Linked DNA regions of Homo sapiens: region 1 is linked to region 2. The links come from fine-mapping of genetic effects on plasma protein levels. Region 2 holds a variant in brackets. A gene starts in the other region. All regions are shown on their reverse strands. Region 1 holds the start of GAL (galanin and GMAP prepropeptide). Region 2 has its middle 21 kb from the start of TENT5C-DT.

Evidence for each region. PIP is the chance, under the fine-mapping model, that this variant and not a neighbour inherited with it causes the effect. The UK Biobank Pharma Proteomics Project read protein levels with antibody pairs (Olink). The fine-mapping took linkage between variants from a reference panel, not from the people measured, so its PIPs are less certain.
Region 1: GAL starts here. The variant in region 2 is fine-mapped to the plasma level of the GAL protein (UK Biobank, PIP 0.91).

The regions. Positions count from the first base shown.
Region 1 is chr11:68,679,451-68,684,767 of GRCh38, reverse strand. It overlaps GAL (galanin and GMAP prepropeptide), which reads right to left and starts at 224. Exons shown (of 6, transcript NM_015973.5): 1 at 36-224. All of the region lies in intron 2 of LOC107984343 (a long non-coding RNA gene), which reads left to right. RefSeq lists enhancers at 1-153, 830-1,505.
Region 2 is chr1:117,582,454-117,587,831 of GRCh38, reverse strand. No RefSeq gene overlaps it. Among named protein-coding and RNA genes, the nearest start is that of TENT5C-DT, 21 kb to the left of the region's middle. The variant G/A (reference allele first, on the strand shown) is at 2,309.

The sequences.
Region 1 (5,317 bases), not on the chromosome of region 2:
CCGGGGGCGCAGGGTCGGCCCGGCGCCAGTAGTACCTTGAGCTGCGGCTGCGCCCGGGTTCGGAGCGTCGGGGTCCGGGTGCGGTGGCGGGTCTGGGCGGCAGGTCCGGGCGTCGGGCCGGGTCGGGTGGGCTCTGGCGGCCTGGGGCGCTCACCGCATGGCGCGGCCGGCAGCAGGGGCAGAAGGCGCGGGCCGGGTCCCTCCACGTGTCCGCCGCCCGGTGTGGCCGCCGCCACCGCCGCCGCTGCTATATATGCGGCGCACCCGGGAGCCGCCCGGAGTCGCGTCACCGGCTCAGCGCCCGCCTCCTGCACCCTCGCCGAGCCCCGAGGGCGACGGGAGTGACCCGAGCTCGGGTCCTCTGGGCCATCATAGGCGGGTGCGGCGGAGAGCCCCCCCTCATCCCGCGGGAGAGACTCCCCCAAATCTGCAGAGAGAACCCCAAACCCTGTGGGAGAGACCCTAATCCCGAAAGACAGAGCCCAATCGCCCCGCGGGAGAGCCCCCAGACCCGTGGCCCAAGTCATCGCTGTGGCGTCAACCCCACTGCTCCCCCCGGGGTCCCAGCCCCAGAGCAAGCCTGACCCCCCACAACGTCCCACGCCTGCGGTCTCCCTGCAGCTTCTCCTCCCAGCCCCTACCGCTGCAAAAGCCAGCTGAGCTCCGCAGCACTGGAGACCCCAGAGGGTGACGGGCAGGGACGACTCCTCAGTCCGAGCCAGCCCCAGCTGGGAGGTCATGGGGTACCCGGGGAATGGCGGGCAACACTTGGCCCTGCGCCCTGGCCGGCTTGTGCTGGGGCTGGAGCGAAGGTTCAGGCCTCGGGAGCCGTCGATGGCGGGGAGGGCAGGCGTTCCCGGCTCCCTGTGCCCAGCGACCTCCCTCCTGTTTCACTAAAGGGGGGCTGTGGATCTCAGGGTCTGCTTGGCCATCCCATTGTGGGAGCTGCGGGACCGTCGAGCATCCACAGGCACCAGCTCAGAAGCTCGGCCTCTCAGTGCCTCCCCTGGCTGCCTGGTCCAGTTGTAAGAGGGAGCTTTAAGCAGGTCCAGCCATTGGGCAACTGGTTAGGTCCAGAGGGAGAGCAGCCCAGACTCCCAGAGGCCGCCAAGGGGTGGGCGGTGGGCAGAGCAGCAGCAAGAGGCTGTCCTTGTGCCCAAGGCAAAGACATCCCACAGGAACAAGGCCCTCCTTGGCTCCTCCACAAACCCTTCCTGAGCTGGGGCCAAGTCCCGAAACAACCCAGGAGAGAACCCAAGCCTAGGCTGTTCCTTCACCCCATTCCCAGGCATCAGGGGAGCACAGGATCCCAGGCATCACACTTGTACAGTGTGGCACCTCCGGGCTTCCGAAGAGCACGGGGTCATCTGCTGAAAACTCGCCTGACCTCCCCTCCCACTGGCCAGACACCACCCAAGTCCTCAACAGCAGCAGCTGGGTTAGGATCTCCCCACCCACTGGGCTCAATATCAGATGGGTTGATGTCACATCTGTGGGTTGATGTCCACAGGGCACAGGACGAATGATGATCATGACAGTGTCATCTTACCTGTCCTCTACACTTTAGTCTTGGGAACCTTTGCACAGACAGCTACAGGCTGCCCCCAGGAGAGATCCGTCTGCCTCCACGTGGCTGGGGAAGGACAACTGGGCTTTCAAGAACTCTGGCGAAGGCCAGCGGCTGCTGGAGAAGGTGCAGGGCTGCAGCCTGGTGGCTGAGTGTCTGCTGTGGTTTATGGGAGGAAGAGGAGGAGACAGGACTTGGGGAGGGGTCTTAGGAACAGACTCCTGGCACGACAGTGGTGAGGGGTGGGGTGTTCCCAAGGGCACAGTTTGACTTCTGGTCATCCCTATTTCTTGCAGCCTGGGGAGAGGAGAGTCAGGCACAGGGGACCCTAACTAGGACTCACAGGCTGATTTCGGAGCCCACAGTAAACCCTGAAGTGGTTTCCTGCCGGGAGTGGGGGCGTGGGAGACAGTGAGTCGCCATGAGAGTCTGGGCCAGCCGTGGGCAGAAGGACAGCCGAGAGGCGGAGGAGCAGAGGGCACGTTCCTGTGACTCTGCAGAGAAGTGACAATGATGTCCTCTCATGCCCCATGTCCTTGTGTCTAGATGACATCAGGGAGTGGGCAGGGGCTGGGCTCATGGGTGCCTCTTGGCTACCTGAGAAATACTGCAACCTTTGGCCCCCGGTGGTAGTGGGAGCCCTGCTACCATCCCAGAGCTCTTTCTTGCTTTCTGCTGAGAACAAATCCAGCCCAGTGCATAGCACATCTTAGTCAATTCCAGCCTTCTCCTTTCTTCCACGTTAGGCCCCCTTCCAAATCCTGCCAGAGCTTGACTACACTTATTTTCTCTATTTACTTTGTCACAGAGGCTCTTAGTCTGTTTAAAGGAGCACAAACTCTAAACCTAAATCCTTGAGATGGATTCGAAAAGAGACTCAAAGTCCATCCCTTAGTCATGGGCTGGAATTTGAGGTACATTAAACTTTCAGCTGTCTTCATTTGGGCCTATGTACTCTTTTTGTTTCCTTTTTTGCTTTCAAAGAAACTTCAGACTGGGCGCAGTGGCTCACGCTTGTAATCCCAGCATTTTGGGAGGCTGAGGTGAGTAGATAGATCACTTGAGCCCTGGAGTCCAAGACCAGCTGGGGCAACATAGCAAGGCCTCATCTCTACTAAAAATAAATAAATAAATATTTTTTAAAAATCAGCCAAGCATGATGGCACGTGCCTGTAGTCCCAGCTACTCAGCTCAGGAGGCTGAGGTGGGAGGATCACCTGAGCCCAGGAGGTTGAGGCTACAGTGAGCCACGATCAAGCCTGCACTCCAGCATAGGCAACAGAGCAAGTCTCTGTCAAGAAAGAAAGAAGGAGGGAGGGAGGGAGAGAGAGAGAGAGAGAGAGAGAAGGGAAGAAGAAGAAAGAAGAAGAAGAAGGAGGAGGACGAGGAGGAGAAGGAGAAGAAGAAAAGAGAAGGAAGGAAAGTGAGGAAAGAGAAAGGAAAAAAAGAAAAATAAATTTCAGGCCGGGTGCGGTGGCTCATGCCTGTAATCCCAGCACTTTGGGAGGCCAAGGCGGGTGGATCACAAGGTCAGGAGATCGAGACCATCCTGGCTAACATGGTGAAACCCCGTCTCTACCAAAAATACAAAAAATTAGCCGGGAGTGGTGGCAGGCGCCTGTGGTCCCAGCTATTTGGGAGGCTGAGGCAGGAGAATGGCGTGAACCCAGGAGGCGGAGCTTGCAGTGAGCCTAGATCGTGCCACTGCACTCCAGCCTGGGTGACAGAGCGAGACTCCGTCTCGAAAAACAAAAAACAAAAAACAAACGAAAAAGAAATTTCAGGGTAGGTTATCTGGTCAGAGCCTCCTTATTAAAAAGACATTAAGCAACTGGAAACAAATCTTCACATGTATTTTGAATTCATTTAAGAAAGCTCCATTGAATAATTAGACACATGTATTCAAAATAAACATGCCCATGCCTGATTCCTCCAGGTCCCTAAGTTCTTTTTCCACGTGGGATGACACCCACCGTCTTGCTTCCCGCTTAGTCTGGGTGAGTGGGTCTCGGTATAAACCCTGGCTGGGACCCTGGCCCGGAAGTGCGGTGACCATGGGAAGGCTACAGACAAGCAAGGCAGTGGCCTGAAGGCGTGCTGGGGTTTCCTGAGGTCGGCAGATTCCTTCAGACAAATGAGGCCAGCACACCTGGGATGACAGACACCTGCCTCCCGGCACAGACTGTGCTGGAACCACAGCCAGTGTGCTAATGGCTCTTTGCTCAGTAATGACCCAATGGCAGTCATTGTCAACCTGTCATCTTGAAGACAGCCCAGTGTGCAGCAGACAAAGTGGGTCACCATTAGAGTAATCGAAATCAAGCAGAAAGCCTGATGTCCCCCGCTGCCTTCGAGCCAGCCCATCTTCCTTAGAAGCGCTGTCCACCACCAGGAAAAACCACCCTGAAGCTGAGAACTCAAGCAAGGGTCAAGGGTCACCTGGGCCATGCCCACTGCACGGGAGCTCAACCGTCCATTGCCTGGCAGTGGAGCTGCAGTGGTGAAATCAGCAGCAGGGTCCCTGCCCTTGCGGAGTTAGACCCTCACGGAGACCCATTACAGTTGGCCCCTCTGTATCTGTGAGTTCCCTGGCTGTGGGTTCAACCCACTATGGACTGGGTCCTTGTAGGTAGGCCTAGGATGGGTTTCTCTGTACGAATACGTACAGACTTTTTTCCTTGTCATTATTTCCTAAACAATACGGTATAACAACTATTCATGTAGCATTTACATTATACTCAGTATTATAAGTAATCTAGAGATGATTTAAAGCATGTGGGAGGGCCATCGCGGTGGCTTATGCCTGTAATCACAACACTTTGGGAGGCCGAGGCGGGCAGATCACTTGAGGTCAGGAGTTCGAGACCAGCCTGGCCAACATGCCAAAACCCTCTCTCTACTACATATACAAAAACTCAGCCAGATGTGGTGGCGGACATCTGTAATCCCAGCTACTCGGGACGCTGAGGCAGGAGAATCACTTGTACAACTGAACCCGGGAGGCAGAGGTTGCAGTGAGCCGAAACGGCGCCACTGCACTCCAGCATCTGGGTGACAGAGTGAGACTTCATCTCAAAAATAAAAAAGTTAAATTAAAAATAAAGCATATGGGAAGATGTGCGTAGGTTATATGCAAATACTATGCCATTTTATATAAGGGACTTGAGCATCCACGGATTTCGGTATTTGCGTGGCCAGGGGTTTCCTGGAACCAACCCACTGTGGACATGGAGGGCCAACTGTATGCAACAAATGGTTATTGTACAAATAACCACCCCATTGTCGTGGGAAGGAGATGCATGGATTAGGGGAGCTGAACCTGACAGGTGAGCAGGACTGACTGGGTACAGAATGAGGTCCAGCACACTCCAGGTGGAGGGGGTTACATGGGTACGCCCCCTTTTTGGTCCTTTTCCATTCCTTCTTCCTGCTGCCTGGAGTGTGGACGTGAAGGCTGGAGGTGGGCAACGAATTTGGACCATGAGGTGATGGCTTCAGGTGACACATCAAGGCCGAGGGAGCCTGGGTCCCAGTGACCCTGAGCCTGGTCCCTGGGCTGCACACTTCCAGGCTTGTTTCACAACAGAGGAGAAGAAGCATCTCTCTTATTTAAGCCAATGGCCCATAGAGGTTTTCCATCACGTGCGGTAGGAATTGTTCCAATCAGTTTCACAGTGGTCAACAAATGTTTGATGAATGAATGAATGAATGAATAAAAACACGTGAGAGGGTACACCACCTCCACCGCTG
Region 2 (5,378 bases):
AAATGATCGCCCCAGCTACGTGCTCTTGAGGAGTACCGCTGTGGGTTGAATGGGGAGGACCAAGGCGGCTGAGGTGGCTAAGCTTTGCTCCTGCTCCCCACATCCTGCTGGCAGCCCCCAAAAGTGCCTGAGTGCACCTCTTGTCCTTGCACCCTGAAAGCACCAAACAGAACAGAGCACACACTGCCACGAGCTGGGTGGGGGCCGGGTGCTGCTGGGCTGCACAGGCGGCTTCTCCAAGGCTTTCTGTGACAATTGCCCAGAGCGACCACACGGACCAAAATTTGCCCAGAAATTCTTCAGCGCAGTGAAAGCCTGCAAGCACTGGGTGGTAAATGACAGGACTGGAGACCACAGAAAGCCACAGGAAAATTCTTGTCAGGGCCAGCAGCAGACACGAGGAGTGAGAGGCTGTGAATGGCTGCCTGGTTGGGAGGGATGAGCAAAGCCACCGGAGCTCAGCGAGGTGGTATGGAAAGCAAACGGAGAAACGATGGAACAATGCCTGGAATCCCCACATGGTGGCTGGCAGGGAAAGGGGAACTGTGCAACCAGATGTTTGCTTTGCCTCCTGGACAGAAAGCACTCCACATGGAAACTTTCGTGGCCCTGTGAGGTCAGAATCCATGAGCAGCCCCTCTTCCACAGAGCAAGATGGTGGGGTCCGCCAGCCAGACCCTCTGTGACCACTTGTGAGGCCCACTGGCTAGAGGGCAGCACCACAGCACAGTCCTTGGCCTCTCCCTCTTGGGTTCCCACTTCTGGATTGGACAAAGTCGGACAACAAACCATTTTCTCTCCAAGTTTACAGACCTGGCTCTAGAAAGAGGACCCACGGGAAGGGAGCCATGGCCAACCGGAGGCCGGGAAATGTTTCCCTTGGTCTGCGGTGGGGGCTGATGTTGGCGTGCTTCCTTCTTGTCCACAACAGGATGGCACAAGTGAGAGCAAACAAAACAGAAGCCAATGCAAAGGGCTTCTTGGCCTTCCTCAGTGAGAACAACCCAGGAATCAAGGCCAGGAATAAGAGAGGGGCTCCTGGGTTTGAAGTGGGGACCAGGAGACCTTATGGGAAAGCTAGCTAGCTCCTGGGTCCTGCTAAGTCTGACAGTGACTTGTGTAAATAAAGGGCAGACAGTGTTGAGGGCTTCTGTGTATGGGGTTCATGTGTGTTTTGTCTACCCCAATCCTCTCCTTGACTTCAGCTGTCAGGACTAAGCACCTCTTCTCCCCAGTAGGCCACAGCACACCTCCTTGGAGACCCTTCTCCTTCTTCATACTGTATATGTCAGGTTGGCTGTGATAACAAGCAACCCCAAAGTCTCAGTGGCTCACAACTATGAGCATTTGTTTGTCACTGACATCACAGTGAGTGGGCAGGCCATTCTAATGGCAGCGGATAAAGCAAGCATGGTGGTGGTACAGCTTCTGCTGAGACCTAGCATATGTCATGTGCTTTCACATTCTGTGAGCTGAAGCATGCCATGCAATGAAGCCCAAAGTCAAAGGGGTGAGGATGTGTATCACTTTCAATGGGAACGAGGGCATGAATAATTGCAAACAGCAATACAGTCTACTTCCCAGCCAACAGACCTTTCTATAGCTCAGCAGTCTCCTCTGTGCAAGTTTGTTTTGTTCTTGTAAGAATCTTAGGAAATAATAGCAATATCAGCCAGGTGTGGTGACTCACTCCTGTAATCCCAGCACTTTGGGAGGCTGAGACGGGTGAATCACGAGATCAGGAGTTCGAGGCCAGCCTGGCCAACATGGTGAAACCCCGTCTCTACTAAAAATACAAAATTAGCCAGGCATGGTGGTGGGCGCCTGTAATCCCAGCTACTCAGGAGGCTGAGGCAGGAGAATCGCTTGAACCCAGGAGGCAGAGGTTGCAGTTAGCCGAGACTGTGCCATTGCATCCAGCCTGGGTGACACGGTGAGACTCTGTCTCACAAAAAAAAAAAAAAAAATAGCAATATCAATGGTAATTAATATTTACTAGCCCCTTTCTTTATGCCAGGTGTGGTTCTGAGTGTTTTGTAGGCATTATTTGAGTAACCCTTGCAGCCCGATGAGGTAGAGACCACTGGTATCCCCATTACACATACTAGAAAACAGACTGAACAGTTTAGTGACTTGACCAGCAGCTAAGGATCTAAAGGTATCAAAGGCTGCACTTATAACCCCAACATTAATCTGCTTTTTCCTATGAGGTAGGATTGGGCCTGGGGAGGGGTAGTGGCCCCATTTGGCAGATATACAAACTGAGGCTCAGAAAAGGGATTTGACTCATCCAAAGATATATATCTTA[G/A]AACAGAACTTAACACCCTGGTATCTAGGCCGAGTCCCTGAGTCCCTTTTCTATCCACCCACTGGCCTCCTGGAGCCCTCCTGCCTGCCCTGGCTTTCAAAGGCTTCAGGGCTGTCTTCTGCTCAGCAACTCCTCCCCAACTGCAGGCCTGGGGCACTGTCATCCAGCACTGCAGAGTCTCGCTCTTTGGTGCCCAGCATCGACCACTCCCCACGCTGGAGCCTGTTGTCATCCCAAATATGAGGGGTCAATGCATCCTCTGCACATGGAGCTATGCGGAGTGAGGCCCAGTGACTGCACTATCCCCATCTGTCTCCCTTTCCCTAAGAGGCAACCAGGGTGGTGAAGAAGCCCAGGCCCCGGAGTCAGACATACTCCTGCTCGAGTCCTGGCTCTACTACTGATGACTCGAGGCAGGTTCCTCGACTTCTCTAAACTTTTCTTTCCTTGGCTGTAACATAAGAGCCCCAGAGCTTGGAGTACAGCATCCACTGCAGAGTAACTGGCCTTCCTTTCATCCTTCAGTCCCTTCAATCCAAATCCTGCTGAATTTCTTTGGCCAAAACACTTTCATACCTCTTACTTGCCACCCCCATTTCCCCATCCCTCCTTCTTGGGTCTGAGTTACTTCCACTGCCCACTCAGACAGGTTCATGCCAAGGTGTGAAATCAGGTGGAGGCACATTCCCATCTGCACTCCAACAAAGAACCCAAATGGGCTGGCTCTCTGTGCTCGCCACATGGACACTCACACACACACATTCCCACACACATGCACACACATGCACACATATGCACACATGTATATACATTTATACATATATACACACATACACATGCACATATCCATGTAAACTAACATGTATACACACATGCATACACAAACATACATATGCATACACATACATACACCCATACAGGCACATATCCATGTAAACTCGCATGCATACACAAACATATACACATATGCGTACAAACACAGATACATGCACACACATACAGACATGCAAATACCATGCTCACATGTATATGCACATACTCATGTACACACAAACACATGCATGCATGAACACCAACACACACATACACATTCATATACATATACACAAACATGCATGTGCAAACATGCACATGAACACACACATATACAGGTACACACAAACGCATGCACATGCACACGTGTACATACATGTACACACCAACCCAAATATGCACATGTACATACACACAAACACACACATACTCACAAACACATATACAGTTGACCTTTGAATAACACGAACTTGCACTGGCGAGGGTCGACTTTTACACAAATTTTCTTCTGCCTCTGCCACTCCTGAGACTGCAAAACCAACCCCTCCTCTTCCTTCTCCTCCTCCTCCTCAGCCTACACAACATGAAGACAATGAGGATGAAGACCTTCATGATGATCCACTTCCACTTAATGAATAGTAAATATTTCCTCTCCTATAATTTTCTTAGTAACACTGTCTTTTCTCTAAAGTACTTTATTGTAAAAATACAGTATCTAATATGTGTTAACCAACTGTTTATGTCATTGATAAGACTTCCTGTCAACAGTAGGCTATTAGTACTTAAGTTTTGGGGGAATGATATCGTTTGGCTGTGTCCTCACTCAAATCTCACTTTGAATTATAATAATCTCCACGTGTTAAGGGCGGGGCCAGGTGGAGATAATTGAATCATGGGGCGGTTTCCTACATACTGTTCTCATGGTAATGAATAAGTCTCACAAGATCTAATGGTTTTATAAAGGAGAGTTCACCTGCAGAAGCTCTCTTGCCTGCCACCATGTAAGATGTGACTTTGCTCCTCCTTGCCTTCTGCCATGATTGTGAGGCCTCCCCAACCACGTGGAACGGTGAGTCAATTAAGCCTCTTTCCTTTATAAATTGCCCAGTCTTGGATATGTCTTAATTAGCAGCGTGAGAACAGACTAATACAGGGTGTCACAAGTTATATGTGGATATTCGAGTGCACGTGGGTCAGTGCTCCAACTTGTGTTGTCCAAGGGTCAACTCTATACATATACATATACTCATGCATATATGCACACACACCCACAAACATATACATATACACATACTTATGCACAAACACACACGCACCTTCCTTACTTGCACAGCTACAGGGTGGGGGGTGGCTTGTGGGACCTGTAGTGCTGTCTGTCCAGCCAGTTCCTCCTTGGAGGGTAGGTGCCCTTCTGAGGGCAGGGCCTTGTTCATTGCGGAGCCCCATGCTGCTCCCACAGCCAGAGGACCCCAGCATGAAGACTACCCTTGGTTGTCAAGTCCTACCCTCAGCTCCATCTTGCAGGTGAGGAAACTGAGGCCCAGAGAATAACAATAGGTAACACACAGTGCTCACAGTATGCCAGGCAGAGTTCTAAGCTCTTTGTATGTATGAACCCATTTAACACTTACGACCATACAATGAGGTACCTATTATTATCCTTGTTTTCCAAAGGAGGAAACTGAGGCATGGAGGGGTCATTGGTTAGTGGTCACACAGCCAGTGGTACAGTGGGATTTAGGCCCACTGGCTGCAGTGCCTCCGCTCCTGCCCACTGAGCTGTGCTGCTTATCTGCCACCAGCTATATGTGTGCGTTGGGCAGAGGGACTTAGAGCAGCAGAGCAAGAGCTCCATCCCAGCCCTCTGACCCTGGGCTGCCTCACTCTGCTGTCTCACCTGGCTGAGATGCCTGCTACCAGGCCACATGGTAGATAGGAGGGCCTGGGGTGCAGTGGGGTGCTCCACTCCATCCTCCCCCACTGCCCACAGCTCCTGAGAAGCAAGGCCAGCATCAGAGAAGCCAGAGCAGGCCGGACGCCTGGCGTCTTTGGCAGGCTCACTCACATTCTCCTGGCTGTGCTCTTTTGGACTTGATTTAAGTTTAATTCCAGCTGGAATGACTGGAAATGCCATGTATTTCACTAGGATTAATGCCTGGCTGGAAGAGCCAACTGCCTCCACCACAACCAGGTACCATGGACTTCAGAGGATTCTTAATCCCAAGGAAATCCTCTGTGACTCAGCTCCAGTGGCTCC